Homo sapiens: one gene and its partners. The protein of the gene in region 2 interacts with the protein of the main gene of each other region in a pairwise test. Each region holds a gene or a part of one and is shown on either strand. Other genes may lie near its edges.

Region 1 (8,197 bases), on a different chromosome or scaffold from region 2:
AGGAGACATAAGATATTCAATTAAACATTTGCTGGCTACCATTTCCCACTACCTGTGCTAAGTGACCAGTGGCTCTGGGCACGGTCTCTTATCTTAGGCCTGTATGTCCAAATCAACAGTGGGAAGCTGGGCCTGGATTAGCCACTGTTCCCAGACCTGACCTGCCCAGAGTTTTCTGGCAGCTAGGCCAGAGCTCCCTCTACTCTTTCACATATCATTTCCAGTTGCCCACTAGTTCCTTGAAAAGTTCGTGACCTTCCAAAAAACCATGTAGTTTCTGTGTCTTCAACTCACCTCATCCCCAGCATTGGTACTGAGCTCTAACCCTGTATTAGGGACAGACATACTCTAATCAGCTGTCCTTGACAGACCTTGAGCTTCAAACACTTCTGCCTCACCCACACTAGCCAGTTAAGTTGCTGTGGCCTCAGCAGTCCTCTCCTAGGAACCAGATTAGACCACTGCCTACACATGGGGACACGCTGTCCTTTGGACAAGTACTCAGGCAAGTCCCTTGACAGTTGGTGTTTGGTAAAAGGCTGTTTGTTTACAAAGGAATGTCCTAGGGTTTCTGTCTTTAATCTACTCAAATACTTCCTTTTTTGAACACAATTTGTGTTTGAAGACACAAATTAAGAGATGTGTACTTTTGAAGATGGGAAGAAAGGGTACTTGTCAGAACAATCCTTATCCTTTTTTGGTTGCAAATCCCTTTCAGAATCAGAGCAAGGCTTCAGATTCTCTCTCCAGGACAATCGTATGGTTTAAAAATGTTGCCTGTGGCCAGGCATGGTGGCTCAAGCCTGTAATCCCAGCACTTTGGGAGGCTGAGGTGGGTGGATCACCTGAGGTCAGGAGTTCGAGACCAGCCTGGCCAACATGGTGAAACCTTGTCTCTACTAAAAATGCAAAAATTAGCCGGGCGTGGTGGCAGGTGCCTTAATCCCAGCTACCTGGGAGGCAGAGGTAGGAGAATTGTTTGAACCCGGGAGGCAGAGGTTGCAGTGAGCCGAGATCAAGCCATTGCACTCAAGCCTGGGGGACAAGAGCGAGACTTCTCTCAAAAACAAAAACAAAAATAAAAACAAAAACAAAAACAAAAAAATCAATCCCTGTTCTAAAAGGAGTCTATCAGTGACATTCTCTTTTTATGGGTAAAGTTTTCAGTAAGACCCTGAGTGCTCTAAGAAGGGTTTCTTCTTTCTTTGGCCTCCTTCCTTCTCTTCCCTTCCTCCTCTGTCCTAATGGGTTCAGTACAAGTTCTCCCATTTTCTCCATTTCTCCACTCTTTAACTTCCCTGGCCTCTCAAAACTCTCATAAACCTTACAAAGTGATTTTACTGTTTTGTGTCTTCCCACAGTTACTACCAGCTCCTAGTAAACAAAGACTATGCTTGGTTTGTTGTTGTATTTGCACATCCCCTCAGTGCCAATACTCTGCATACCTTAGAAGCTCAATACAGTACAGTCAGCCCTCCATATCCATGGGCTCTGCATCAGTGGATTCAACCAACCTCAGATTAAAAATATTCAGAAAAAGGCCTGACATGGTGGCTCACCCCTGTAATCATAGCACTTTGGGACGTGGAGGTGGGTGAATCACTTAAGGTCAGGAGTTCGAGATCAGCCTGGCCAACATGGTGAAACCCGGAATCTGCTAAAAATATAAAAATTAGCCGGGGGTTGTGGCAGGCACCTGTAATCCCAGCTACTCGGGAGGCTAAGGCAAGAGAATCGCTTGAACCCAGGAGGTGGAGGTTGCAGTGAGCCAAGACTGCGCCACTGCACTCCAGCCTCGGTGACAGAGTGAGATGCCGTCTCAATCAACCAATCAATCTTCAGGGAAAAAAAAAACAACAGATGGCTACATATGTACTACACATGTACAGATTTTTTTTCTTGTCATGATTACCTAAACGATACAGTATAACAACTATTTACATAGCACTGTATTGGGTATTATAAATACAGATGATTTAAAGAATACAGAAGATATGCATAGGTTATATGCAAATTCTATACACCATTTTATATAAGAAACTTAAGCTGGGCACAGTGGCTCATGCCTGTAATACCAGCACTTTGGGAGCCCGCGGCAGGCGGCTCACCTGAAGTCAGGAGTTCGAGACCAGCCTGGCCAATATGGTGAAACCTCACCTCTACTAAAAATACAAAAATCAGCCAGGCGTGGTGGTGCACACCTGTAATCCCAGCTACTCGGGAGGCTGAGGCAGGAGAATCATTTGAACCCGGGAGGTGGAGATTGCAGTGAGCCGAAATCGTACCACTGCACTCCAGCCTGGGTGACAGTGCAAGACTCCGTCTCAAAAAAAAAAAAAAAAAAGAAAAGAAAAGAAACTTGAGCATCCTGGATCTTGGTACCCTTGAGGGGTCCTGGAACTAATCTCCACAGATACTGAGGGATAACTATATATACTTCTCAAATGGCCTCATACTACTGTTTCTTGATCCTTCTACCTTTAGGCATTTGGACTTGAATGTGGTGCCTCCTTTAAAATTTGGGCATATGAGGCCGGGTGCAGTGGCTCACGCCTGTAATCCCAGCACTTTGGGAGGCCAAGGTGGGTGGATCATGAGGTCAGGAGATTGAGACCATCTTGGCTAACACGGTGAAACCCCGTCTCTACTAAAAATACAAAAAATTAGCCGGGCATGGTGGCGGGAGCCTGTAGTCCCAGCTACTCGGGAGGCTGAGGCAGGAGAATGGCGTGAACCTGGGAGGCGGAGCCTGCAGTGAGCCGAGATCGCACCACTGCACTCCAGCCTGGGCGACAGAGCAAGACTCCGTCTCAAAAAAAAAAAAAAAAAAATTTTTGGGCATATGCACGGGTGTGATACTGTAATTTAGAAGAAGATACAGAGATAAATTTGAGGCTGGATGCAGCGGCTCATGCCTGTAATCCCAGCACTTCAGGAGGCTGAGGTGGGCAGATCACTTGAGGTCAGGAGTTCAAGACCAGCCTGGTTAATATGGTGAAACCCCGTCTCTACTAAAAATACAAAAATTAACCAGGTATAGTGGCGCACACCTGTAGTCCCACCTACTCGGGAGGCTGAGGCAGGAGAATCGCTTGAATCCGGGAAGCGGAGGTTGCAGTGAGCCGAGATAGCGCCATTGCACTCCAGCCTGGGTGTCGCAGCAAGACTCTGTCTCAAAACACAAACAAACAAAAAGATTTATAGATATATTTGATCTGCACCCTAGGTTCCTGGCACAGAGCTCCTAAAACCTTTGTAGATGGGGGCACTAGGAGAATCCTTCATTCTGATATTGGTCTTTAACCTCAGTTCCTGACACAGAGCTCCTAAAACTTTTGTAATTTCCTAAATCCCTTGGAATTTCCTGGGTAATAGGAGCATCTTTTGTTGTAAGTAAGTAACTCTTGGTGGGCTCCTAGATGGGGGCTGATTGCCTGGGGAACCAACCATGTGATTAGAGGGTGGGAACTTTCAGCCCTACCCCCTTAACCTCAGGGGACGGGAGAAGGTCTAAAGGTTGAGTTGATCACCAGTGGCCAATAACGTATTCAATTATGCCTTTGTAATGAAGCCTCCATAAACACACACACACACACACACACACACACACACACACACACACACACACACACACACACACACACCAGGGTTTGCATTAGCTTCAGGATAGCTGAATACACGAAAGTTCCAGAGAGGGCGTAGAAGCTTCATGCCTCTTCCTACATGCCTCACCCTATACATCTCTTCCATCTGGCTATTCATCTGTATCCTTTTTTTTTCTTCCAGTCTGTCGCCCAGGCTGGATGGAGTGCGGTGGCGTGATCTCATTTCACTGCAACATCTGCCCCCAGGGTCCAAGCGATTTTCCTGCCTCAGCCTCCCTAGTGGCTGGGACTACAGGCATGCACGACCACACCCGGCTAATTTTTTTGTATTTTTACTAGAAATGGGGTTTCACCACATTGGTCAGGCTGGTCTCAAACTCCTGACCTCAGGTGATCTGCCCTCCTTGGCCTCCCAAAGTGCTGGGATTACAGGCATGAACCAGCACGCCCAGCCATCTGTATCCTTCTTAATATCCTTTAGAGTAAATTGGTAAATGTAAGTAAAGTGTTTTCCTGAGTTCTGTGACCCACTCTAGCAGATTAATCAAACTCGAGGAGGGATTGTCAGAACTTTCGATTTATAGCTAGTAGGTCAGAAGTATAGGTGACAATTTACTACTTGTGACTAGTGCCTCAAGTTGGGACAGTTTTGTGGGACTGAGCCCTCAATTGGTGGGATCTGACGCTATCTCCAGATAGAGTATCAGAATTTAACTGACTTAGAGGACACCGCACCGGTGTGTCTACTAGAGAATTGCTTGGTGTATGGGGAAACAACTCCCATATATCTGGTATCAGAAGTGTTGTGTTGAGTGACTGTGGGAACAGAGTAGAAAAAAGACTTTGGGTTTTTTTGCCTTTCTCAAATAACCAGAAGAGCCACAAGCAAAGACAGAAAAGCATAACCTACAGCAGCTAGTTTCTCAGAACAGCATATTTTTCCCCTTCTGGGTCCACTTGCCTTTTTATAAACACAAAAAGTCTTACAGAGCAGGACAAATATGACACTGAACACAGACATTTGAAAATTTTGCTGAGATTGACAAATTCTCAAGTATATGGTAGAGGAATGGAGTTTTTTAAGTTATTTTCTAATTACTGGGATACCTGCTATTACCAAGCCAACCGAAGGCCTGACTTTCCCTCTGCCTTCCTACATAAAAAGAAGAGAGTAAAGGTTTAATGTCTTCTAGGTAGAAGTTAGATGACCACCCAGGCCACACTTCACCAAGTTTGCTTTTTCATCTGCCGTCAAACACTACTATCCACACTCAGCTTTGCTCATTTATTCCTTCCCTTCTCCCTCCTGCCCTCCTCCAGACTGCCACAGAGATAGTTCAAGGTGACAATGGCTCCTCTGCAGCAGCACATAGCAGTCTTGCCAGACACAACAGCAGATCAAGTAACTACTGAAGATGATGGCTACACTTGGACAGGTGACATTACATTATCATCAACAAACATTTATCACCCTCTTGAGTACTGTGACTACAAAGAAAGATAAGATCTTGCTCTGCACGTCAAGTACCTTTCAATCTAGAGAGAGAGTTAGGTGGAAAAATAAAAAGATAACATAAGGTGTACCATTCTATAAATATTAATTGTGCAATACAGACAACTGTGCTAAAGATAGAGCTTTATGTACCCGACTTTCCAGAACAATTCTGATTTCAAATACCCTGTTCCACCCAATTCTTTCAGTACACCTGTATGCTCAATGACAGGTGTTTCGCATAAAAATTATGATCATCACAGCTACTTATGAGGCCAGCCAGTCAACTAGATTAACTAAAATCAGGATGGCATTATAATGCCAGATTGTTTTATTTTTTTCTTTTTTTTTTTTTTTTTGAGACGGAGTCTCGCTCTGTCTCCCAGGCTGGAGCGCAGTGGCGCGATCTCTGCTTACTGCAAGCTCCGCCTCCCGGGTTCCCGCCATTCTCCTGCCTCAGCCTCCCGAGTAGCCGGGACTACAGGCGCCCGCCACCATGCCCGGCTAATTTTTTTTGTATTTTTTAGTAGAGACGGGGTTTCACCGTGTTAGCCAGCATGGTCTCGATCTCCTGACCTCGTGATCCGCCCGCCTCCGCCTCCCAAAGTGCTGGGATTACAGGTGCGAGCCACCGCGCCCGGACCAGATTGTTTTAATCACACTAGTACCTTCTTGCAGCCTCAGCACAGTGCTTTAATAGTAGGCCCTCTATCTCAGACATGAAAACATGAGCAAAAGCAAAAATACGAGGCCTGGCCGGGCGCGGTGGCTCACGCCTGTAATCCCAATGCTTTGGGAGGCCGAGGTAGGTGGATCACCTGACATCAGAAGTTTGAGACCAGCCTGACTAACATGGTGAAACCCCGTCTCTACTAAAAATACAAAAAATTAGCCAGGCGTGGTGGCAGACGCCTATAATCCCAGCTTCTCCAGAGGCTGAGGCAGGAGAATCGCTTAAACCTGGGAGGTGGAAGTTGCAGTGAACCAAGGTCACACCACTGCACTCCAGCCTGGGTGACAAGAGTGAAACTCTGTCTCAAAAAAAAAAAAAAAAAATAGTAGGCCCTTAGCCGGGCACGGTCGCTCCACCTCTAATTCTAATTGGGAGGCCAAAGTGGGTGGACCACTTGAGGTCAGGAGTTTGAGACCAGCCTGGCCAGCATGGTGAAACCCCGTCTCTACTAAAAATACAAAAATTAACTGGGTGTGGTGGCACACACCTGTAATCCCAGCTACTAGGGAGGCTGAGGAAGGAGAATCACTTGAACCCAGGAGGCAGAGGTTGCAGTGAGCCGAGACGGCGCCACTGCACTCCAGCCCTGGTGACAGAGCAAGACTCTAAGGAAAAAAAAAAAAAAAAGGCCGGGTGCTGTGGCTCACGCCTGTAATACTAGCACTTTGGGAGGCCAAGGAGGGTGGTTCGCTTGAGGTCAGGAGCTGGAGACCAGCGTGGCCAACATGGCGAAACCCCATCTCTACCAAAAGTACAAAAATTAGCCAGGCATGGTGGTGCATGCCTGTAGTCCCAGTTACTTGGAAGGCTGAGGCAGGAGAACTGCTTGAACCCCAGAGGCAGAGATTGCAGTGAGCTCAGATCAGATCACTGTACTCCAGCCTGGGTGAAAGAGCCAGACTCTGTTTCAAAAAAATAAAAAATAAAAAATAAAAAAGCCGGGCGCAGCGACTCATGCCTATAACCCCAGCACTTTGGGAGGCCAAGGTGGACGGATCACCTGAGGTCAGGAGTAGGAGACCAGCCCGGCCAACATAGTGAAACCTCATCTCTACTAAAAATACAAAAATTAGCCAGGCATGGTGGCATACGCCTGTAATCCCAGCTACTCAGGAGACTGAGGCTGGAGAATCGCTTGAACCCAGGAGGCGGAGGTTGCAGTGAGCTGAGATTGTGCCACCACACTCCAGCCTGGGTGACAGAGCAAGACTGTCTCAAAAAAAAAAAAAAAAAAAAAAAAAAAAAAAATAGAATAAGAAAAAGGCAGGCTGGGTACAAGATACTAGTCTGTTATGCCATTCTTCCCCACAGCCTTTTTAAAGTTACTGAGAACTATGACAGTAATTAGGCCTATAATACTCCTGGGAAGGAAACGAATCTATCTGTGAAACAAAAATTAATTTTTTCCCTAAGCTGAGTGAAGAGAATATCCACTTTGTTGGCTTCTGACATACACACTGACAGCACAGTTCACCAGACAACAATCACTCTTCTGGCGTCCCTTTCCCCAGGTATTCTATTCGCTTACTGCTCTATCTTCCCTGCCAGTCCACTCCCTCCTCTTTCCAGCCTGTGCCTTAGACAAGGACCCCAAACAAGGATCACCTGGGAAACTCCAAAAAACAGATTCCTAGTCATAATCCCAATTTTACCAAAAAAGAAGCGTTTGGAAACCCCTTAGATCGACAAGCAGCATCCAAAGACACCAAAAACTTAGGCTCATCAAGTATTAACTTCCTGCCTCAGCCTCCCAAGTAGCTGAGATTACAGGTATGTGCTAGCATCCTACTTATTGTTCACTCTGATAGAATTTTTTTTTCTTTGAGATGAAGTTTTGCTCTTGTCGCCCAGGCTGGAGTGCAATGGCATGATCTTGGCTCACTGAAACCTCTGCCTCCCAGGTTCAAGCAATTCTCCTTGCTCAGCCTCCCGAGTAGCTGGGATTACAGGCTACTTTTTGCAAGGCTAATTTTTGTATTTTTAGTAGAGACGGGGTTTCACAATGTTAGCCAGGCTGGTCTCGAACTCCTGACCTCAGGTGATCCACCCGCCTTGGTCTCCCAAAGTGCTGGGATTACAGGCGTGAGCCACCGCACCCAGTCTAGGTCAAGTTTTTCATCTCTTTCCTTTCCAAGGAGTTAAAGCTGAATTTCAAATTTTACAGTGAAATACACAATTCTAATTTTCTTTCTTTCTTTTTTTTTTTTTTGAGATGCAGTTTTGCTCCTGTTGCCCAGGCTGGAATGCAGTGGCACAATCTTGGCTCATCGCAACCTCTGCCTCCCAGGTTCAAGTGATTCTCCTGCCTCGGCCTCCCAAGTAGCTCGGATTACAGGCACACACCACCATGCCCAGCTAATTTTTGTA
Region 2 (8,197 bases):
AATCATCTCTCTTGAAAAGTATACATCCTCTCTCGCACTGGTGGAAAGCAAAATTGACTTTTTGTTTGCTGTATAAAAACACTTAGCACTTCAGAAATTAAAAATGGCCTACTCACCCTACACCCTTCCTAAAATCTCGAGGACAAAGAATATATATTTAAGTTTCATCACGACTGCTGTAGAGCCCCCCCCTTTTTACATTAATAGTGGCACTCAAAATAAAAAAATAAGATCTGTTAAAAAGTTAAACTGACTGTTCCACTAGATTTGAGCCTGCTTGATTCAAAGCCAATAGTACAAAACTGAAGGTGCCGTGTCTGATTTCACATCAACAAGTCACTGGAAATTATGTCACATTAGTTTCATAAATCATGGTCTTTGATTTTTTCTAAACAGAGCTATTACAAATTAATACAAACTTGAAACATACCCTAATTTAAACTAATAAGCTTTGGGCCCTGCTTTTTAAATTTTAAGGCATGTGTGTTTCTCTACCATAACAACATTGTACAAATTTACATTTACAATCACATGCATGATCTACAGTTAAAAAAAAAAGTTTGGATTACAGTGTTTTTAAATTGTGAATCACAATTCAGCACCTATCATGTTATAACTAATAAGGCAACAGCAGTGTTGTATACTATAATAATACTCCCTTTCCACAGTCTAGCGCAGGGGTCAGAGAGCCCAGAAATGTTAGAAATCTTATCCCTACTTATATAATCTGTATACGTTTTCTAGGGGTTTTGAATTGATGAAAGAAGTCCTACATGAATCACACTATTGTAGGCCAGACTAGTTACAGCAGCTGTTAACGAGCATTGGGGCACAACTCATATTGTGCTTACAATCAGATGACGTGGTTTGGAGGGTTTCAATTCTTTGACTTCAATCCTTCCGCAGCTTCCTTGGCTTCACATTGTTTTCCAGGGGTGAAAAGCTGTTGGTGTGTCCATTCACAGCAGCCATGGACCCATTCTGGTGGTCCTTCAGGTGGTCTTTCCTTCGGGAGGCCCCTTTCTTGTTGTAGGTCTAAAATGTGTAAGGGCAGATGAGAACCAAATGACCACAGTTTTCTTTATAGGGAACTTTACTGAGAATTGCATCCCTAACACTAGGCCTAGTTTCAAGATCAAATCTTATCAAGGAGAAACTCCTGAGGTCAAGTCCTCATTGACTAAATCTTTTGTCACTGGTTTCAATCATTCTTCCTTTTTTTTTTTGAGGCTTAGCCTGAGGTAAGTTAACTGAATCACAGGCTGCAACAGAAATACTATTTAAAATGTCACATAGAAAATTCAATTTACACTTTGCTTTGCCTTTTAGTATCTGGATGGCAGATGACAGGGGTTATGTGGCCAAATTGGTCTTTCCCACCTGGCAGCAGCTCTCTTGACACCCACATCCCTTGTTCGTCTTCAAAAGTTCCTCACTGCCTCGGCGACTATCTCAGCCTTCATGAACAAAGTGCTATGCTGCTATAAGTAGTTAGAATAAATGTGATTTCAGCTTCATCGGGTCCTATCCTTTCACCTTCCTTGTAGCTGGTGTATGTCCCACAGTGCAGCCATAAACTATGAAGCCCAGAAGTATATGACTTCCACTGAAACTCAACATGCCACACACAGGTGCTTGTGGGCACAGAAGAAGAAAGGACAAATGTCTGAGCCTCGGGACTTGCAGCCTCTGCCCTTGCTCCTGACCTCCGTGTTTTGCCCAGATCAGCAGGCCTTATGGCTACCAGGCACTGGCAACAAAGGCAGGACACATGTCATCTGGGGGGTGACGCATGGCAGGAGAATCAGCAGTGGCTGCAACGTGGTCAGGCTCCACTGGAAATTATCTGCCCTAAATGGATCTTTCTGTGAGCAAAGACCTACATCACCACATCATATGCTTAGGAATGAACCGAATCCTCACACCTGAAGACTGAATGTATAAGAAAGCTGGGACAAAAAAGCAGATCTCCATATCTGAGGACTGTGATAAAAATCTCTTCTGAAATTTCATTTGGCCATGACGTTCAGGGTAGTGAACTGAGAGATTTCTGATTGAAATCACCTCTCACGTCTCTGCTGCAGGTCAGAGGGAAGCAACATAGGGTCCTGCTGCACAGTTTTCCATTTCCCAGGGGAATCCCAAGACTTCCTCACCCAGGCTCTAGAACAGGATTCTAGTGTCTTCCAGTGAGCTGTGAGCCCCCCAGAGGCAGGGGCTGCTCTTGTCATAGTGACTCCATTAGAGGCCAGAGCCTGTCACCCAGCAAGGGCTCCACATGCCCATTAAGTAAATAGATGAGGGCCTTTGTTGGTAAAGGCCCCAGATTCCAAGTCCCAGAGAAGGGTGAGATTTACCTGAATGTAGAAGTTTGTGAAGAGAGCAATCAGGGAAATCATGTATCCAATCTGGAAATACAACCAACCAAGAGGGAATGTGCACGGCCAGATGACCCCGCAGCTGGTCTGGATGATTGTCAGCACAAACTGAAGCTAGGGGAACAGAGGGGATGCAGCTGAACAGGGACAGTGCATGGACGAGGCCCCACACCAGGCAGACTTTTTAACCAGCATCACCTAAATTTCTGAATTAACACTTACTACCCTTGCTGCAGGTACAGCAGTCACTTCATGAACACAACACATACACTATACTTATCCTAAACTCTAGGTGTGTTTGTCTTATATATATTCTTCCTCTGCCCTCCAAGCTATTTAAACTACCTTCTCCAAATTTCAAGGATACACTATAGAGACATCCAAGACTTTTTGTTTTTATTTTTTGAGAAGGAAGAGCAAGTGTGTATGTTGAAAGGGCACTGATAACATCACTGCAGGATGTGCCACCTGGCTGGACATCCTTCCAACTCCTTATCCATGGACGCTTCTGGTTTGGTGAAGGCTGATGAGTAGATTTAAACCTTTACTGGCAAACAACACTAAGTGCATTGATTAATTTTGATGAATAAACCTTGAAACGCATGTGAACTGGTTAGAGAAATGGTGGAAAGATGTTTTAAAAAGGGCTAGGCTCAGGCCGGGCGTGGTGGCTCACGCCTGTAATTCCAGCACTTTGGGAGGCCGAGGCTGGCGGATCACAAGGTCAAGAGATCAACACCATCCTGGCCAAAATGGTGAAACCCTGTCTCTACTAAAAATACAAAAATTAGCTGGGTATGGTGGCACACGCCGGTAGTCCCAGCTACTTGGGAGGCTGAGATAGGAGAATTGCTTGAACCCAGGAGGCAGAGGTTGCAGCGAACCGAGATCGCGCCACTGCACTCCAGCCTGGTGACAGAGCGAGACTCCAGCTCAACCCCTGCCCCTCCCCCCAAAAAAAGGGCTAGGCTCTGCACACTGTATTTCTAGCAGCTCCAATGTTTCTATGTAGAGTTTTTTGTTTTTAATTTTTGAGACAGGGTCTATGTTGCCCAGGGTGGCCTCAAACTCTCAGGTTCAAGAGATCCTTCTACCTCAGCCTCCCGAGTGACCGGGACTCCAAGCCATGACCCACTGTGCCTGGCTGTTTGCCTTCTCTTTTTTAAGGTTAGTACTGCAGACTGAGGAATAACTAGGAGTGGTGCTTAAAATAAATCCTGACAACCTGGGTAGGTTTAATCTTCCACCTCAAAGTACAGAGCCTAACGGGAGACCAACTTTGCCAGTCTGTTCTTTTAAATTCTGCTTCCGCCAGACCCAAAACTGTGGTATAAATCAATTTCTGCATCATTTCTCCTCAAGTATAACAAGGAGGTTAATCAACAATTTTCCTTTTTCACAGGTGGGTGAGAAAAAATTAACAAGGACCATATAGCAGCTGGCAGAGAGGTGAAAATGAAACATCAAACACTTCAGTCTCTAAGATTTTCTCAGACTTTTTTTTCAGATTGTTATTTTTAAATATTGAAAAATCATAATTGACTTGAAGGGATCTGAATCAGCTTGGTGTGTTTAGAAAAATGTGTTAATAATGCAAGGACAGGGCAAAGGGTTTAATGTCCACACCCCTCAGTCAGCTAGCTTTGGCCTATTGACTCAGTGTCATCTATAAAATAGGGACAATAATATGTGTTTTTCTTTTTGGTAGAGACAGGGCCTCACTATGTTCCCCAGGCTGGTCTTAAACTCCTGGCCTCAAGTGATCCTCCTGCCTCGACCTCCCAAAATGCTGTGATTACAGGCGTGAGCCACTGTGCCTGGCTTGGGGACAATAATATGAAATCAGGCTACTGGAACAATCTATGTAAAATCATGTACTTAGTATGAGTACCCAACATGTGCTAAACACTTAGGAAATGTCAGTGTTTAATATGAGCAGTAGTAGTATTAATTAGTTCATAGACGAATTCATGAGAGGAGAGAAAGAGGTTACCTATAATATACTGATGAATGCAGAAGGCTTAATCAAGGATGGTGAGAAGTATCAGGTGAAGTGGCCTGGCCCTGGCAGTAAACCAGGGGAGGAGCTGTTAACTGAAGCAAACAGCTGCCATCCTCACCAACAGGTGCTCCACTGCATGGGGGCTGAGGGGTCATCCATACCTGCCAAACAAATATCCTTGCTGCCTAGTAATGGGCTACACATACCCTGGACTCCATACTACTCTCCAGCTCCTTCTAAAACCCCTGGAAACATACAATTTTCATTTTGGATTTTGGACTATAATTAGAAAACACACACACATATACACACATACATGCATATGTGCTTATGTGCAAAAACTCAGAAGAGCTGAACTTGAAGTTGGCAAATTAGATTCTAGACCTCTTTGTACAATTCAACTAGCTGTATGCCCATGGTCACAGTTCACTATCAGTTCAAAACAAGAAAATTCCCTAATCTACCCACTTCAAGGAATTTAATTACATCAAATGAAAAAGGGTGGAGAAGGGGCATCTTAGATGCTATTACATAACACTAAAGCCAGGAAGAGGTCTGTATCCACCAGGAAGTAAGTCCTGGGGAAAGAGGCCAAGTCACTCACCAGCTGCCCCTGAGTGATGTACTTCTTCCACCAGAGGTATGGACGCATGGAAGGGACTGACGACAAACCATAGTAAGAGTACATGAGGACGTGGATGAAGCTATTAAGTGTGGCACCAAAATAAGCTGCAGGAACAGAGGGATTTGGGAAGGAGAATGTATTAGTGTTTTAAACAGAACAGGTGGTAAAAAAAAAAAAAATACAAGATTCTTTTTGAATCAGAAAGAGAGATGACTTCCAACGGAGCTGACAAACACTGCAACAGCAAGCAATGCATGGATGTGTAATGAGAATTCAATTTCCACTTGGGCAGGCAGCCACCAGGAGGCTCCGAGCCCAGGGGTCAGCTGTAGCTGCTAGAGGGGCATCTGACACTGAAGCCACGACGCCATCCCAGCACCTACAGGCTTTGCTGCAGATGCCCACCCACTCTCAGAGACAGCTGTTTTTCTTTACATGCACAACTGCCCAAATATGCTCTCTGAAGGCTGTGGAAGACAGCTGATGGGCAATATGCTCAAAAATGGTTGTTTCTATACATTTGCTGGGGTGTGGAGAGGTCTCTGAAGCCATCTTCTAATTATTTCCCAGGACTGCAGTGCTGAGGTCATACATTTTTATTAATAATAGAGTCAAGAGTCTAGCTCCTTAGAGATAAAAGAGCCATCTTATCACATCATTTTCAATGTTCAGTAGGACCACTAGTTCTTTTTCCAGACTCTGTCCTCCTCCCCAACAGTCAGCAACCAAACCAAGCCATCTGGCTTTTCCCTGTGCAGTTGCAGGTGCACAGCCTGGTGTTAGGGAAGTTTCTACTCCTGGCTATGATAGGAACTGGCTTTTGACTTTGGACACATCACATCCATTCCCTGGTTCAGTTTCTCATGGCCCAAGTGGAGCTGATTAAATCTGTCCTCCTGAAAGTTCTCTGAAAATTTAAAGCACTCTTCAAATGTAGGGAGGGGCTGTTTCTATTAGAAAGTTAGGTCAGTTAATCCACCATCATGAGCTCTGACAGTGGGAGGAAGAGCAGAAAGCCCCAACTCTACCCACCTTTCTGTGGTCTTAGTTTCCTCCCAAACCCAAAGGATCTGTATTTGGAAAGCTTTTTTTTTTTCCTAGCTCTGGAATTCCATGACACTGTGAATCTTAGCAGGCTCAGGTAATCAAGGGCAGTGCTATCCCAGAGAAAAAAATATCCATAAATAGACCCATAGGTTCTCAGTTAAATTCTTCAGTGTTTGGATGACGGGACTTTTGACTGAGACATTTGCTAAAACTCCCAGGCTGAATCTGAAGGTGGCAATCTCTGAAAATTATAAGAAACTTTGGACTACAAGCTTTCCAAAAACCAAGTACAACCTTAGAAAATTTATATCAAGTTTTGGTGCTCGTTATAGAAGACACCTTGATCACCATGCTTCAGGGAATATGAGGGTTGTTAGAACATGTGGAGACTTCCTAATGCATGACAGCTAAAGCTGTATTTCAAAATGAGCCTTGCTCCCTGGTACTCATGCAACAGTGTGATCCTATTTTCCTCACCTGCCCGTCTCAAACCTTCCACACCATACAGAAGGACCAGAAAGAACCTGGAAAGTTGCCCTCTAAGTCAGAGAATATTGTACCTATTCCTTAATATGTCCCCAGTGGTATCTCCCTCATCTCACCCAATCAGCACAGAAAGTTCACTTAACTAAAAAAGGGTTTTGTGTGCATAGGTACATAAACTATCATTAAAAGCAACTTGAACACAAAGCTGAAAGCCTGACCTAGACATTTACAGAAACAGCACCTTTTCTGAAAGCCTTAGTTTCAACTCTCCTCCCTGCTCACACCTGTTCCCCAAGTCCCCGTCTCTAATACTTACAGTGGCCGCAGGGGACCCAGTTCATCACAAACCACCAGATGTTCAGCATCGAGGCATGGTGGTAGACGTGCAGGACCGTGATCTGGTGGTTGTTCTTGCGCAGGATGAAGAAGAAAGTGTCCATAAATTCTATGAGTTTGGAGAAGTAGTACCACCAGAGGACACGGATAATCTAAGAGGAAAGGGTCAAAGATTTAAGGCTTATCCTCACGGCTTCTCTGGAATATCACCTCTGACATGTTTCACTAATATCCAAAAATCTGATGTCAACTCGGAGAAGCCCGAGTGCCCCAAGAGCTCTTAATGTCCATCAGTGGCTGGGAGCTATGGTCACTCTCCAAGTACCTTTAACCAAAGAACATGATTGGGTTGGGACAGCTGGAGGGGTTTGAAATGACTACAGGGAATATTTTTGAAAGGGTCCCTGACACTCTTTGAGACTAACAAAAACATGAGGCTCAAGGTTCAAAACCTTGAAGTCTGCCTATTCCCTCTGGAAGCAGCCTGCACAGCCATTAGCAAAGGAAAACCATCTGAAAAACGCTATTGATTTCAGGGACTAACATGGAGCAGCCGACCTGATAAGTGACACAGAAGAAAAGGAATCAGAACCTGCAGTGTCAGGTCTCTGCCCAATTAAACATGTCAAACAAGTGCTCTAAGGAGATGACTGCCCATGCTGAGCTGCGACTGTTGGCCTGTGATTTAAAACAAACCTCATGAGTGGAAGTCAGATTTTATTTTTAACACCACTACTCGGAAAAAAGTACTTGGATGAATGATTTTAAAAATTTAAGACATTGCTCTTATGATCCTGATTGTGTAAATATAACATACTGACTGCATGTGATTTTTCCTGCCAATTGTTAACCGGAGTTATTTTTACAGAGGGGGATGCTTTAGGTTTTATTTTATACCTTTCACATTCAAATTTTAATTTGATGTGTATATATTGCCTTTTTTATTCTTTTAAAAATATCAACAGGGATTGCCTGGGCAGTGAGGTTATGGGCCATTTTGTATTTTATACAATTTATTTTTAAAAACTCAACACTTATAATAATAAAGTTTCTGAAAAAGAGACAGTACCTTCATATCTGATTCTCCTGCGGTGCGTGTGCCCTGACAGAAGAAGTTGTATTTGCCTTCCCATACTCCTGTTACTAACTAAAAAAGAAGAAAGAGCCAGTCACCAACAGCATCTGAGCCATGTAAAGTCCTCATTGAACTTTATTAGTTGCAGAATCTGTGATAATTTACCTTGGGCTGTGCTGAGCCAAGTTTGCTCTGAGAAAAAACAATTGTAGGCAAGTGTAAACAAAAGGAAAGCTTTAATGACTTGA
Region 3 (8,967 bases), on a different chromosome or scaffold from region 2:
TCGTGCCACTGCACTCCACCCTGGTGACAGAGTGAGACGCGTCTCAAAAAAAAGAAGAACAAAAGAAAGTAATTGTACTTTTGCACCAACCTAATACATGTCAAGCTTCTTTTGCCTCTTCACTCTGTTGTCATAATTTCCCCAAGATTTCATTACTTCCCTTGCAGTAAGCAGATCAGTCAGGAACAGGTTCGACTGCCTTATAATATGGGCCCAAACACTGGAAATATCCACAATTCTTGTCCCTGACAGAACACAAAGGGGGAATGGTACACATGTTCTCGGATCTGATTAAACATCAGGTTCCTGAGTACACAGCTATACAAACACAAAGAGTGGGCAATGCTGCCTACAAAAGAAATGCATACTTAGAGGATTTTCATATTTCTTCCATAGATAGAAAGATCCTTATGGGACCATCAAAATTATGTGGAAGTTTCTAGTGGTGATTAGTTTCTAGTGGTATTTTGAGACAGTCTCCTCCCTATATATCTTCATGATGATACCATGAAGAAAAGCTGAATTAGACCCTGAGAAGAAGAGTATCACATACTAGGAAACCAGTTCTGGTAAGTGATTAACATGAACTTGAAACCTTTCTTTGTTAACTGAACCAACCAAATTTCAAATGACTGTTTTCACCCAAGTTCATTCCTAAACTTGAGGCTTTACTCTCCCAGTAAGTTCACTGACTTATATAATTAATACATGGAAATGCTTATGAAAATTTAGGAAGCCACTGAGTGAATAAATACATTCATTTGTAATAAATATGTGATACAGAAATCAAACCATTTTTGGGTGAAATATATTAGCTAGATATAATTATTCCCTTTAATTAGTCCTTGAAGCTTGTCCGAATGCCAATGTTTTGGGAAAATACTAACACTAGGAAATTTATGACTACAAATGCCAAAAAAGATGAAGTGATATTATACTGAATTTTAAAAAGATTTCATCTTTAGAACAAGAGATAATATCAGGGTCCTGCTCTGCTTTAGACAGGAGATCTGAAAATACTTTGGATGCCAGAGCAAAAGGACTATGTCAAAGTACATTAAATTCTTAAGCAAAAGGCAAGAATCAAATCTCAAACATCTCAAGAGGTAGTAAAATAACCGAAGATATTTAGGATAAAGAAGAAAGAGGCAAAACAGGAGCAGAACAACTAGAGCCTTTAAATAAATACTTGCACAGCAATCAGAAAAGGAACTAGCATTGTTTTAATTGGTCCTAAGAGAACAAGTTATCAATGGATGAAAAGTACAAAAAAACAGATTTTGATTGAAAAGTAACTTTCTATGTTAGCCTCAAAAGTCAATAAATATTAACAGTGAGTGAAGGATACATTTATATAAAATAGCAAAAAAATGAATCCAAGAAACTTGGGCATACCAAATGAGCCTTTGACAAAAGTTTAGGCGCACATATGGAGCATGACACTAATCCATTAAGATTAGTGATAGGCCAGGCATGATGGCTCATGACTGTAATCCCAGCACTTTGGAAGGCCAAGGCAGGAGGACTGCCTGAGTTCAGGAGTTCAAGACCAGCCTGGGCAACAAAGTGAGACCTCGTCTCTAAAAAAAAAAAAATATTAATAATGGTATTAGTGATGAGTTATATTCCGATAAGTAAAACCAACTTCCAATTTTTAATAATAGAAAGGAAGGCAGGGCACAGTGGCTCACACCCGTAATCCCAGCACTTTGGGAGGCAGAGGTGGGTGGATCATTTAAACTCAGGAGTTTAAATGAGACCAGCCTGGGCAACGTAGTGAAACATCGTCTCTACCAAAAATACAAAAAAATTAGCCGGGCGTGGCAGTGCACACCCATGGTATCGGTTACTCAGGAGGCTGAGGTGGGAGGATTGCTTGAGCCTAAGAGGGAGAGGCTGCAGTGGGCTGAGATCGTGCCACTGCACTCTAGCCTGGGCAACAGAGTGAGACCCTGTCTCAAAAAAAAAAAAAAGAAAAGAAAAAGAAAGAAAGAAAAGAAAAGAAGACACAAAGTATGGATAATTCTGAAAGTTATATTTTATAAAGAATAATCTATCCATGATTAAGCTACTGCAGAACTGCAGATGAGAAAAGGTGATGGACTGTCCTAGGTAGTGGCAAGGGAAACAGGAGTGAAAGAATTTCAGGAACATTTCAGAGATGGAGCTCAGAGTACTTGATGATTTATTAGAGACTCTTGGAATACAGTATTAGTAGGATTTACTGTGTCAGTTTAGCTATTTATCCATTAACAGTAACAATAGTAGGAAACACATACTGTTTACCATAGGTCAAGCAATGTTGTAAACATTTTACATGGATTAACTCATTTCATTCTCACAACACTATGAAGTATATTTATAACCATCCCCATTTTAGAGATGATAAACTAAGGCTTACATCAGTTAAGTTAGCCAATAAGTATCAAGAATCAGTAAGAGGTTAGATACAAGATTTAGACCCAGATACTGTAATTCCAAAGCTAAAGAGCTCTTAATTGATCAACTAAATAGTTGTAAAGGAAAGTAAACAAAGTCGAAAGCAGGCAGAATGTAGTAATGTCAAGAGCCCGGTTTAATGAAGAGCCACAGTGGGGGAAGAGGATAGCAGTTTGGCTGCTCAAAATCACATGAGGTGTTCATAAAAAATAAATAAATAAATAAAATAAATCTGTATTAAATCCAAATCCCTGCAGATGGGAGATAAGATTTAACTTTTTATTTTCTTTTTTTTTTTTTTTTTTAAAGCCCTGGGTAATTTTGTGGCGGAACCAAGTTTGGGAACCTGTGTAATAAAAGATTTCTAAGGGCTCTTCCTGCTTTAACATTCTAGTTGACATTGTAAATGAAGTTCCCAGAAATCAAAGGAGCGAGGGAGGGATCCTAGCTGCAGGAAAACGGCTATGCATTCAGAGTCCACACCGTTTATGCTCCCATTTTACTAAACGGTCCCTCATAGGGGGAGGGATAGAACAGGCAACGGAAAGAAGGATGTGGTATCCACGATAAGCAGGCTAAAAAAGCAGGCTTTTAAAAAGGCTTTTCTAGCACGATTTGCACAAAGAACCCCTTCTTGACTATATATATTTGTGTTCATCCAACTGGATTTTGAGGTGGATTCCTCAGACCCGTATCTGGCTAATGATGGATTTCAATATATTTTCTCTAAGCACCCCGAAGCGTTGCACGAAACCTCTAGGTTGTGGCCTGCCCGCCCCGAGGCCAGGTGAATCCGGCTCAGCAGCAGAGGTGTCTGCAATTACACCCTCTAATCCCCTACTGTCAGATATGACCCTTTCCGCACATACCTGAGGGCCCTCTGGTAAGATTGATCTCTTCCTCAGTGACCAAATAATCCACTCTTCCGTTCATGTTTTACAGCTCGTCTGGCTTCCTACTTGGGTCAGCTGGAGTGCAGCACAGGTGAAGGTGAATCAATCTCGGCGCTGCGCCCACAGCACAGCGGTTTCGGTTTCAGCAGCCTCGAGACCCGGAAAAGGAAGCCCGAAGGACTCGGAGCACTGGGAATGCTGGGAATCGTGGTTCCTACCGCCAATGGATTGCAGTTTCTCACCGGTTCCCAAAGCCAAGCATGAGGTGAGCAAGGGGCAAGTTACCATTCTAATTTGCCATTGGAAGCAAGTGGGAAGGGGGTGGCTAGTAAAAGTAAGGGACCTAAATAAATTGATATTGTCGAGAAAAAAAATTTTAAAAAAATCTCCTGCCATCCTAGAAAATCTCCACAAATGTAGAAAAGAAAAAAAAGGTGTATTATTCTGTAAGCATCGAACCAGACCGGAATGGGTGTTACAGGCAATCCACTAATGAGATTGCAAAGAGAGACAAAAATCTCACATTTTATGTAGCCAAAGCACACGCATCTTCTCATGTAAGACGAGTTAACATGGTTTGGTATTCAATTTTTGGTAGTTCACCGTTGGAGTGGCCGCCTGTGTTGGTTAATTGCCTTTATCCAAAGGAAAAATAAAACGTTATCTCTGTGACAAACAGGTACTTACGGCTTGGAGCAAGGCGCTTCGGGTAACTCCCGCGAGCCTGGAACATAGGGGCACTGTCTACCTTGATACTTAAATTTCAAGGAGTTGGCTCCCGGGACCTGACGAAAACAATTCCTGGGTTTTATCTGACAAGAGGCTTATTTAGCTTTTAAAAAGATACACACACACACACACACTACACACGGATTATAATTACAATTTGCTCAAGAAAATGTTTTAAGAAAGGGGGGTGGGGGAATGTCTCATTCTTTTGGCAACTGGGAAAATTCAATCTTTTTAATGTTTTAACTCTTACAATAAGGTTAACGCATGGCTTAGGTATAACTTTAGGCCAGTCTTCCTGACTTTTGGAATGAGACATTCCAAACTGAACTTGAATGAAACTTCAGGGGTCAAAAACACAAAAGCCTAAAGAGCCAGGAAGGTGACAACCTTGTGAAGCAACCTGGAGTTAGACCACAGGGATTGGTGGGGATCTTAGAGGACTAGAAAGTGCAAGGCCAATGTAAAGACATTTAAATTTAGAGTAAAAAACCAAAGCAGCAGCTACTATGTTTACCAAACAGAAGGAGATAGGGGCAGATTCGGCAGGAAGACCTCTTATTTGCTCACTCTGAGAGAAGTTAAGATGGAATAGTGGAGGCTGAGCACAGTGGCTCACGCCTGTAATCCCAGCACTTTGGGAGGCCGAGGCGGGTGGATCACCTGAGGTCAGAAGTTCAAGACCAGCCTGGTCAACATGGTGAAACCCTGTCTCCACTAAATATACAAAAAATTAGCTCGGTGTGGTTGCAGGTACCTATAATCCCAGCTACTCGGGGGGCTGAGGCAGAAGAATCGCTTGAACCCGGGAGGCGGAGGTTGCAGTGAGCCGAGATTGCACCATTGCACTCCAGCCTGGGCAACAAGAGCGAAACTTTGTCTCAAAAAAAAAAGATGGGATAGTGGAAATAACACAGATTATGACTTACAACTTGGGCTCAAGTTTCCATTCCATTCCCTTAAACTTGTCTGTCTTTGAGCAAGGAATCCAACATCTCTGAACTCTGTTTCCCCATCTTAAAATGGGATTGATAGTAGCTCTTCATATGTTGGTTGGATGAGTGAATAAAATGATCATTATAAAAGGCAGAGAATGATAAATTAAAAAAATGTGTAATATAAATAAATGACATTGGGGGCTGGGCGGGGTGGCTCACACCTGTAATCCCAGCACTTTGGGAGGCCAAGGTGGGCAGATCACTTGAGGTCAGGAGTTCCAGAGCAGCCTGGCCAACATGGTGAAACCCCATCTCTACTAAAAATACAAAAAAATTAGCTGGGCGTGGTGGCGCAGGCCTGTAGTCCCAGCTACATGGGAGGCTGAGGCAGGAGAATCACTTGAACCCAGGAGGCGGAGGTTGCAGTGAGTGGAGATCGTGCCACTGCACTCTACGCTGGGTGACGGAGCAAGACTCCATCTCAAAAAATAAATAGATAAAATAAAATAAATGACATTGGAATGTCAAGAGAGAAAAGATCAAATAGAAATGGGGGGAAAATCAAGAAATCATCAATGAGGAGATTTGTAAGGAAAAAAACACAAGGTTTCTTTTAGACCACTGTGGGGACGGTGGTGGGGGAATCACCTCTCAGTACCTGGGAAAATTGTCCTTTTCATCTGAACACACAGCTTCAAAAGAAATACATAGGGCAGTGAAAGAAAAAAGTATCCTAAACAAGTTGAGGAAATGCTGGTAATAAGTAGAGTGAGAGATGGGATATGTAAATTGCCTTTATTCCCTAATAGAAGTATAGGAATAATGGTGTCAGAGGCTTTTGAACTGGAGCGACTCCATCTTGAATAGGGGCTGGGTAAAATAAGGCTGAGACCTACTGGGCTGCATCCCCAGGAAGTTAGGCATTCTAAGTCACAGGATGAGATAGGTCAGCACAAGGTACAGGTCACAAAGACCTTGCTGATAAAAGAATGTGGTAAAAAAGCCAGCCAAAACCCACTAAAATCAACGTGGTGATTAAAGTGACCTCTGGTCATCCTCACTGCTCATGATATGCTAATTATAATGCATTAGCATGCTAAAAGACACTCCTGCCAGCGCCATGACAGTTTACAAATGCCATGGCAACATCAGGAAGTTACCCTATATGGTCTGAAAAGGGAAGGAACCCTCAGTTCCAGGAATAGCCCACCAATTTCCCCTAAAACTCATGAATAATCCACCCCTTGTTTAGCATATAATCAAGAAAAAACCATAAAAATAGCCAACCAGCAGCCCTCGGGGCTGCTCTGCCTATGGAGCAGCCATTCTTTATTCCTTTACTTTCTTCATAAACTTGCTTTCACTTTACTCTATGGACTTGCCCCAAATTCTTTCTTGCACAAGGTTGAAGAACCCTCTGTTGGGGTCTGGATCAGGACCCCTTTCCAGTAACAATGGAAGAACAAGGAAGCTAGCTGGGCGTGGTGATATGCCTGTAGTCCCAGTTACTCTAGAGGCTGAGGCGGGAGGATCATTAGAGCTCAGGGGTTTGAGGCTGCAGTGAGGTGTGATTGAAGCACTGCACTCTAGCCTGGGTAACAGAGCAAGACCCCATCTCTACTAAAAAATAATAAAAGTAAATAAATTAAAAAAAAAAATGAGGGAGCTTTAATATGTAGGAAAGCAAATGACAGAGAAAATGAGATCCTACTCAGAGGAAACAATTGAGAAAAATTATGGAATCAGGCCGGGTGCAGTGGCTCACCCCTGGAGTGTAGACTTTACTTCGTGGTCCAAGATGCTTAAGATGGATTTTGGAACTTCAACCATCATATCTACATTCCAGGAAGGTAATGAAGGAAGGGCAAAGAAGACCTCCTGGAAATGTCATAGACTTCTTGTAATCTCAGGGATAGAAATGTGCCAACCATAAAAATCAAGGTTATTATTATTAACTGAAAGTGGGAGAATGGATATTGGGAGGCCACTGGCAGTCTCTGACACAAGAAGTGACACTTTCTGTCTGAACTAACCTTTCTGCTTATGACCTTGAGTTATGTAAAAAATGTAGAATGTAGTGGAAACTTCAATCTACCATTTACAAAATTAGTGGAAACCTTGCCTCACCTTAATCACACCTTGCTCTATTTTTGCACATTTCCTGTCATATATTCACTTTGTCTTTTTAATCTCTCTTGTCTGCTTCAGTCCCCTCCTACTTCAGTATTTTATTCTATCAGCCTCTTTGATGACCAACTCATGAATATGTTTGTATTTGGGACTTATCCACCTCTCCTTTGACATAGCATTTGTTCCAACTTTTTGCCCTTACCTATTTAGTTTCAAATTCCTGCATATTTTATTTTTTCTATGCTTCCTTAGGTGACAAAACTCTTTTGTGATTGACACACTTTTTTCTTTGTTGTATTATTATTACATTTAATCAGACGATATTAGTTTGTTAATGTTACTGTAACTAATACTACAGATTGTGTAATTTGAACAATGAAAATGTATTTTTTCACAGCTGTGGAGTCTGGAAGTCCAAGATCAGGGTGCAGGTAGAGTTGGTTTCCTCAGAGGCTTCTTTCCTTGGCTTGCAGATGGCCATATCTTCTACCTCTGTCTTCACATGGTCTTTCCTCTGTGTGCACACATGTCTGTTTCCAAATTTCCTCTTCTTATAAGGACATCGTTCATATTAGATTAGGGCCCACCGTAATGACCACATTTTAACTTACTTACCTCTTTAAAGACCTTTTCTCCAAATATGGTTACATTCTGAGGTACTTCAGCAGATGAATTTTGCAGGCATACAACACAGCCCATAACACAGATTACAGTGAAGTCACAGCCTTTGGCATTGCATATCTCTGCTCTGGCCCATTACTTGTTGATTTTAAAGTTTAGACCTGATAGCAGTATTATTGCTTTAATTTTCAAGTTCTTGCTGCAAGTTGCACTGCTGACCCCAGCTATTGATGACAGCAGATAGCCACAAGGCATTTACAATTATTTTATCTTCTATTGTCCTTTTTGATTGGTACTCTTTATTCTTCTGTATATATATGCTATCTTTATAAGAAGTCTAATTCAGACCCCTGGCTCTAATGCCATTAATATGCCAGCTGTCATGTCTCTTCACTGAGCTTCAGTCTTGTGTAACCCAGTTGCCTACCTAACATCTCAAAATTTAGATGCCTAGCAGGCATCTTAAATTATGATAAAATGAGAATTTCTAACCCTTATACCCCTAAACTGATACCTCTCTTAGCTGTTCCCCTTCCTTGAGTAACTCAGTTTACTCAGTTCATATGAATATCTTAAGAACAGCTTTTGATTCCATTCTTTCCCTTGCATTCTACATTCAACCCATCAAAAGTATAGCTGTTGCTATGTATGAAATACAGTCTATCTGACCATCTCTGATACTACCAGCTTATTACAAACCACCAGTATGTATTGCCTCTACTTCTACTGTTCTTCCTGAATGTTTTTTCTGCTGCTCACTCGATATCTCCCATCTATTCTTCCCTCAGCTGGAGCAATCTTACAAAAATGTAAATCAGATCATGTCATGCCCCAATCTAAATATTTCAGTCATTTCCATCTCATGTAGAAAAAAATCGATATCCTTAACATTGCCTCTAAGACCAGATAATCTGGCTTTTGTCAAGCTCTCTAACTCGTCTACTACCACAACCCCCTTCCCTCATTCATTACATCTACACTGAACTTTTTTCTGTTTCTCAAACAAATACATTTGGTTTAGTTTAGATCTTTGCATTTGCTGTGCCATCTGCCCCACGGCTTCTTGTTCACTGCTTTATCTCCAGTACCTATAAGAGTTGCCAACACAAACTTGGCTTTCTTTTTGTTTATTTTTTTAAATTATTTTTTGTAGCAATAGGGTCTTGCTGTATTGCCCAGGCTGATCTAAAACTCCTGGCCTCAGGCAATCCTCCTGC
Region 4 (6,396 bases), on a different chromosome or scaffold from region 2:
ACTCAAAGTGGCTGAGATTACAGACATGAACCATCACACCTGGTGACACTGACTTTTAAAGACTTTTTATTGAGCTATGACATAAGGTAAAAAGCACAAATCATGTGTACTGCTTTTTCACCTGCTATAACCCTGTAACCAGCACCTAGATTAAAAAACAGATCAGGCCGGGCGTGGTGGCTCTCGCCTGTAATCCCAGCACTTTGGGAGGCTGAGGAGGGCGGATCATGAGGTCAGGAGATCAAGATCATCCTGGCTAACACAATGAAACCCCGTCTCTACTAAAAATACAAAAAATTAGCTGGGCGTGGTGGTGGGCACCTGTAGTCCCAGCTACTCGGGAGGCTGAGGCAGAAGAATGGCGTGAACCTGGGAGGTGGAGCTTGCAGTGAGCTGAGATCACACCACTGCACTCCAGCCTGGGCTACAGAGCAAGACTCTGTCTCAAAAAACAAACAAACAAAAAACAGATCATGTGAGCAGGAAAAAATAAAATAAAAATGACACCAAACAGAAAAGGATTGGTGGCTATTTTGGCTAAGCCCAGGTGTGTGTGTGTTTTGATCTCAGGGAAGCCTCCCGAGTAGCTGGGATTTACAGGTACCCCCCTACCACACCTGGCTAATTTTTCTATTTTGAGTAGAGACGGGGTTTCACCATGTTGGCCAGGGTGGTCTCGAACTCCTGACCTCAGGTGATCTACCCACTTCGGCCTCCCAAAGTGCTGGGATTACAAGCGTGAGCCACCATGCCTGCCCTGAGCACAATCTTTGTAACTAGCTATACATGTAACTATACATATAGAAAACCAGCACAAAGTGGGCCAGTAGTATTTAATGAAATCTAATGACTAACCATAAGTCCACAGAGGGAGAAAAACATTTATCAAATTCACACGTCACGTTTCTAATCAAATCTCTTTAATTTCCAGGGTCAGTTGTTCATAGCATCTATCTACTCATATAACAACTCTGCCCTATGAAATGAATCCACTGTGGTTTGGATCTGTTGCCTCTTTCTCTTTTCTGAGAGTAGAGAGAGCTACCTTCGTAAATAATATTTGCTAACAACAGCAAGGCAAAAACAATTATCAATGCATTTGTGTCTTTCAGGGCAGATTGGTCTATCAAGTCCTTAATTTCCCCTCTCTCCTTTCTCCCTCCCTTCCCTAAAGGATGTGCCTGTGGTAGGTACATCTTTCTACCATCCATCACAACTTTTCATTCTCTTTTCTGATGTTCAAATACAGGTCAATTCTGGTCATCAAACAAACTGCCAAAAGGATAAGTAATGAGCCACTCAGATTAAGGTATGCACTAATAAAAATTTAATATCAGAAAACAGCATTTTTTTAACCATTCACAATTAAAGTGGAAAGAGACAAAATTATAAGGCAGCCATCCATGGAATGATTTCATGTTTACAAGGGATCCAGAAAAAGGGACATTTAAAATCACTGTTCCAGCTATTGAACCAGGGGAACTGCAGTCTTATCCCATGAGACTTCTAACTTGCTGGAAGATGCCACAAGAAAAAAAGATCAAAGCCAATCTCCTTGTGTTAAGCCACTGGGTTAGGCTGAGTATATCTAGAGAATTCCTAAATGGTTGTCTAGTTCTTTCCCACAAGTTACACATTTCCTTCAGGCCTCCTGAGGTGAATCTAGATGTCTCAGGTACAAAGAGGTTTTAATTTCACAGCATCTCCAACAGTGCACTTTGGGTGATGTGGACCATTCTGTATTGAGCAGAAATTTTCTAATGGAAGGAAGGTTCCTCTGCAGAACAACTACAGAGGATTTTCACTTAACACTGCAGCAGTTCTGGATGAATCTGGTCATGATTCTCAGTCTCCCAAGGGGCTCAGGGGCCCACAAGGCAGGAACATCCTTTGGGGGTTTGTGCTGCTGTCATACGGTTCCTGTGTTCAGTCCCTAGCTACCATGTGTTTCAGGGGCTTAATACACTCCGATGCTGGTGTGTCCTCTTAGTTCTAATCCTTGAAAAAGAGAAAAACCAGGCAGTGACACTTAGAAGTAGGCTGGTAAAAAAAAAACACAATCACATTTTCTCCTTTCTGCAAAGAAAGGACAACTCAAAACAGCCACTCCCTTTCTTTTCTCTAATGATTCAAAATACCAGAACAGGGCTCACTTGGCTGTTTTGAATTGGGAAAGAAAGAGGTGAAAGCGGGGAGAAAGAGAAAACACATAACCTCTAGGTAGGTAGTACTGTTTCCAACTGTCTACGTTCCAGTGCAGAATCTTTGCTAAAAAAAAATTTGGCAATAGTGTGCACAGGAAAACTGAATCAAACCTGGAACATCACTGCTTTCTTGAAATGGAACTGACAAGCAATTAACTGGAGAATAAGTGAGGGGAATGGAGCAGTAGTATTCTTTAACTTAATTTGCCATTTAAGAGAGCACTTGGAATCTGAAGAAAGTCTATCCCTACCAAGGAAACGGAGTCAAATTGCAATTAAGATTAACTTTGGTTATATGGAAGCAAGAATCATGCTTCTCATCATCAATTGCGTCTCTTTGGTAGCCAATAATTCCATCTGTAATCATGGCAGCAACTTAAGTATTGCCAATGTTTTCAAATGTGTTACAGCATTAAGGCATCCACATCTAAAGAGGCAGTTTTAAACAAGAGGAAAACGGAACTGAAATGTGCCAAGAAGTGAACACGGACATGGCCTCTCCTGGAATACTGCCCACCATGCCAGCAAGCTCTTCCTCCAGTCAAGAAGGCCTGTGCCACGCTGCTTGGTTCCCTGCTGCCTGAAGATGCATTTGAGCCCTATGAGATTAGTATGGCTATTTCTGTCTGCTGACCAGGAGAGAAATGAGTAGTTCTCGAGGCAGCAGCTTTAAAATCTGGGAAAGCCCATACATAGCTTCTGAGAGCTAAGAGGGCCCTGAAAGGTTTGCTTGTTAATAGTGAGGTCCAGAGGGGAAGGCAAATTTGGAAGTCAGATGGTTCAATCCTTGCCGGAGTTCAAGGCTCCATCCAGCAAGATATACTAGCCAAACTTTTAAGCATGATGGCAAGGCACTGCTGAAAGAGGCTTTGGCCAGTAGAACAAATTACCATTGCACACAACAATATGATAGAAAGCACTACTGTCCAAACCAAACCAGACACTACAATCTGCTATTTATTTGACAAAGTCAGTTTCCAGAGAGAATCTAGGCAACCATATAGTTTTGAAGGACTAGATGAAACCTCAAGTCTCACACCAGTCAGCTGTTAACATCCAATCAAGGAAGTCATTTGGACTTTCCATACTATACCTTCTCTTGGTAGTAAAATTGTATGCAATTGTTGCCAATGACTACATACAACTGTATCCTATTTGTGCTACTTTCCTCACTGTGGCCAGCAGAGGGCTCACAAGCTTTATTTCCACAGCTGCTGATCCAGTGACAAATTCATGAAGGAAATAAATCATAGGCATGCTAGCTTATGCGTCATAGAAAACGTTTTTACAAACTACTACGTCCACTGCCCTGAAGAAACTAGTCTTGGTTCCCCCTTAGTGTAATGTGTTTTGAAATGGTATAGAAAGTAAAAATAAATTAATAATACAATATTATACACTTATTTGACAAGACAGGGTTTACAAAAATTTTGGCAAATATGAAAAAAAAATTATCCTAGTCTGTTAAACACTTTTGCTATCTCAATTGTTTAAATTACCAGATTAGTGATTGTGTCAATTTACACATGAGGAGGTGGTATTTTAAGGGCTCAACAAAGCGGCATTTGACACAAAGGTAATTTCTTTGAAGGGGGATAAAGAATAAAGATATTATTATCTTCATTATTACAGTTCGAGAAGTGGTTGTCCTGATAAGAATTCATCCCACACAAATATTAACACCAGCAGTAAGCAGCAAATTGTGGCGAGGAGAGGCTAGAGGGAAAAGTTAGAAGAAAAGCAAAGAAAAGACGAAGAGACAAGAGACATGATTCCAATAAGCTTTAAATCAATAGGCAAACACTTCTCATTTATGATCCATCTTGCTACAGGTGGTTATGTGAGAAGACACAGTGTCGCCAAAGCTGACCTAGTATTTAGGTCCCTAGAGGGATTGCTGATCTGCTAAGAGAAATAATTAAAAAAAAAAAAAACAAAAAAAAAGGACAACCATACATTTTGGTAGTCTTTTAAAAAAAGCTACTACAAAGATATCAATAACCATCCAAAAATCACTTAAAATTTAATATCCCTTAATTTCCAAAGACACTTTGTGATCTGACTGTTCTTGAAGGAAAGCCTAGAACTGAAACTACTAGAACTTGGCTCCTCTCTAGGAATGTGGAGACAGGTATTCTGCAAAGGAGAACTTGACAAGGAATGCTACAAAATACCAGTCACCTCTTTAGAAGCTCCTCCCACCTCTCCTGCTCCATTTGATGGAATGGCAGGCTGGATTCAGAGAGGCACGTGCCAAAGGAGCTGTTTAAATCCCTCTAGACATCCCTTTTCAATGGATATCTCTTTTGAGTATAAAGAGAGCTTTCAATGTGTCTTGCTATCATTTTCCTGACCCTAATCCCAGATTAACTAGAATCACCTTTAGCATCTAAGTGAGTGGGTGCTATGACCTTCCATCAACGCATGTGGCATAGATGCTAAAGCACCAGTCTTACATGGTGGGAACCATGTTAAAAATCAATGGATAAAGTAGCAGAGCCTCTAAACTAAGAAGAAAGAGACATAGCTTAATTACAGAACACTGTATTTTCATAATCACTATTTCATTGTGAGTATGAAGTTCTCCTCTTTTCCTTAAAACTAAATTCCATCTTCCCTGAGAATAGGGTTAAGAGAAATATTAAAACGCAAAATGTCAAGGGCCTTTTAAAAGATAACACAATGGGATGTCTATAGCTAACTGCAACGTAAATGTGTTTCTACTCTAAAAGCTTTTCCATTACTCAGGTTTTAACCTCACCTCCCCTCTGGACTCTAGGAATACATGTAGAGATGCGCAAGGTGAGACAAGAGACTGAGGAAGTGAGTAGCTGTCACGTGCCGGCTGTTCTCACTGGATGGCAAACGGCCCTGGACCAAGGCTGGACCTTGAACATTTAATGCTGGTGTCCTACTGACAGGATGAGAGGGATGAGGCAACCCAGAACCAGGGCTGCCACTTCCAGGCGGCTGAGGCCTCTCCCTCCCGTGGCATCGGGCTTGTGGCTGTGCCCTATTCCGCCCACCTCAGGGAGGACATGTACTGTGGCAACATAAAGAAATGTCCCGGCAGAGAAAAGCATGGCCACTCCCGTGGCGTTCACCTCTGAAAGGGCTTCTTTACTGCTCTGTGAATTAGAAGAGAGAAAGAGGAAAAACTAAGTCAAGTAAAATTCAGGGTCAGGAAGAAGTCCCAGTTAAAAAACACTCACTGTTCTTAACTGGTGCTGTCTAGGACACTGGGGACATCTAGAGAACACAGCAACTTTAAGTTATTCATGGGAAGCTTCCAAATAAGGGTTTAAGAATATCAGTGATGTACGCAATTGATTTTTTAAAAAATTTATTGTAAATCAACAATTTATAATTATATATATTTATAGGGTATAAAGTGACATTATGATTCATGAATAAAATGTGGACTAATTAAATAAAACTAACATCTGTCATCTCAAATATTTATCATATTTTGTGGTGAGAACATCTGAAATTTACTCTTAGCAATTTTGATATGTACCACACACTATTATTAAACTATATTCACCACAGTTCCATCATTCTGTCCATCCATTCATTGACTGTATCTGTCTTTAGAGATGAGGTCTCGCTATGTTGCCCAGGCTGGAGTTGAGTGGCTATTCACAGGCACAATCATAACACACTACAGCCTGGAACTCCTGGGCTCAAGCAATCCTCCTGTCTCAGCTTCCCAAGTAGCTGGGACTACAGGTATGCGCCACTGCTCCTGGTTCACAATTGCTTTTTAAAACGAACTTTAAGTGCTGGTTCAACAGGTTTGGCTTGTATTATTCTTGAGATAGAATCAACAATATATTATTGCAGATATTAAATTTCAGACATAAATTTATTTATTCTACTAATATTTAACAAGCATCATCTATGCACCAGGCTCTGGGCCAGGTGCTTGAGATACAGTGGTAATCAAGATGCAGTAGTTGACCTCATAGAGCCTAGAAATATCTCTTAAGCAGCCGGGCGTGGTGGCTCATGCCTGTAATCCCAGCACTTTGGGAGGCCAAGGTGGGCGGATCACGAGGTCAGGAGTTCGAGACCAGCCTGGCCAACATGGTGAAACCCTGTCTCTACTAAAAATACAAAAATTAGCCGGGCATGGTGGCGGGCGCCTGTAATCCCAGCTACTCCGGAAGCTGGGGCAGGAGAATCGTCTGAA

Evidence for each region.
Region 1: the proteins of ELOVL5 (region 2) and HMOX2 interact in binary tests that used the Homo sapiens proteins (3 or more experiments, as listed by UniProt).
Region 3: the proteins of ELOVL5 (region 2) and SYNJ2BP interact in binary tests that used the Homo sapiens proteins (3 or more experiments, as listed by UniProt).
Region 4: the proteins of ELOVL5 (region 2) and SLC39A9 interact in binary tests that used the Homo sapiens proteins (3 or more experiments, as listed by UniProt).

The regions. Positions count from the first base shown.
Region 1 is NC_000016.10:4,478,608-4,486,804, reverse strand, and holds part of HMOX2 (heme oxygenase 2), read right to left. Parts: intron 7,542-8,197; exon of another isoform or gene 7,244-7,541; intron 5,042-7,243; exon of another isoform or gene 4,926-5,041; intron 3,169-4,925; exon of another isoform or gene 3,051-3,168; intron 1-3,050.
Region 2 is NC_000006.12:53,268,236-53,276,432, forward strand, and holds part of ELOVL5 (very long chain fatty acid elongase 5), read right to left. Parts: intron 8,022-8,197; coding exon 7,944-8,021; intron 7,027-7,943; coding exon 6,855-7,026; intron 5,110-6,854; coding exon 4,985-5,109; intron 2,493-4,984; coding exon 2,358-2,492; intron 1,036-2,357; coding exon 892-1,035; coding exon of another isoform or gene 878-891; 3' UTR 1-877. UniProt on the Homo sapiens protein: Catalyzes the first and rate-limiting reaction of the four reactions that constitute the long-chain fatty acids elongation cycle.
Region 3 is NC_000014.9:70,413,592-70,422,558, forward strand, and holds the start of SYNJ2BP (synaptojanin-2-binding protein), read right to left. Parts: upstream 3,500-8,967; 5' UTR 3,373-3,499; coding exon 3,309-3,372; intron 1-3,308. Other genes in the region: SYNJ2BP-COX16 protein, read right to left, coding at 3,309-3,372. UniProt on the Homo sapiens protein: Regulates endocytosis of activin type 2 receptor kinases through the Ral/RALBP1-dependent pathway and may be involved in suppression of activin-induced signal transduction.
Region 4 is NC_000014.9:69,457,299-69,463,694, reverse strand, and holds the end of SLC39A9 (zinc transporter ZIP9), read right to left. Parts: intron 5,333-6,396; coding exon 5,102-5,332; 3' UTR 1,999-5,101; coding exon of another isoform or gene 1,993-1,998; 3' UTR 1,305-1,992; downstream 1-1,304. UniProt on the Homo sapiens protein: Transports zinc ions across cell and organelle membranes into the cytoplasm and regulates intracellular zinc homeostasis. Participates in the zinc ions efflux out of the secretory compartments.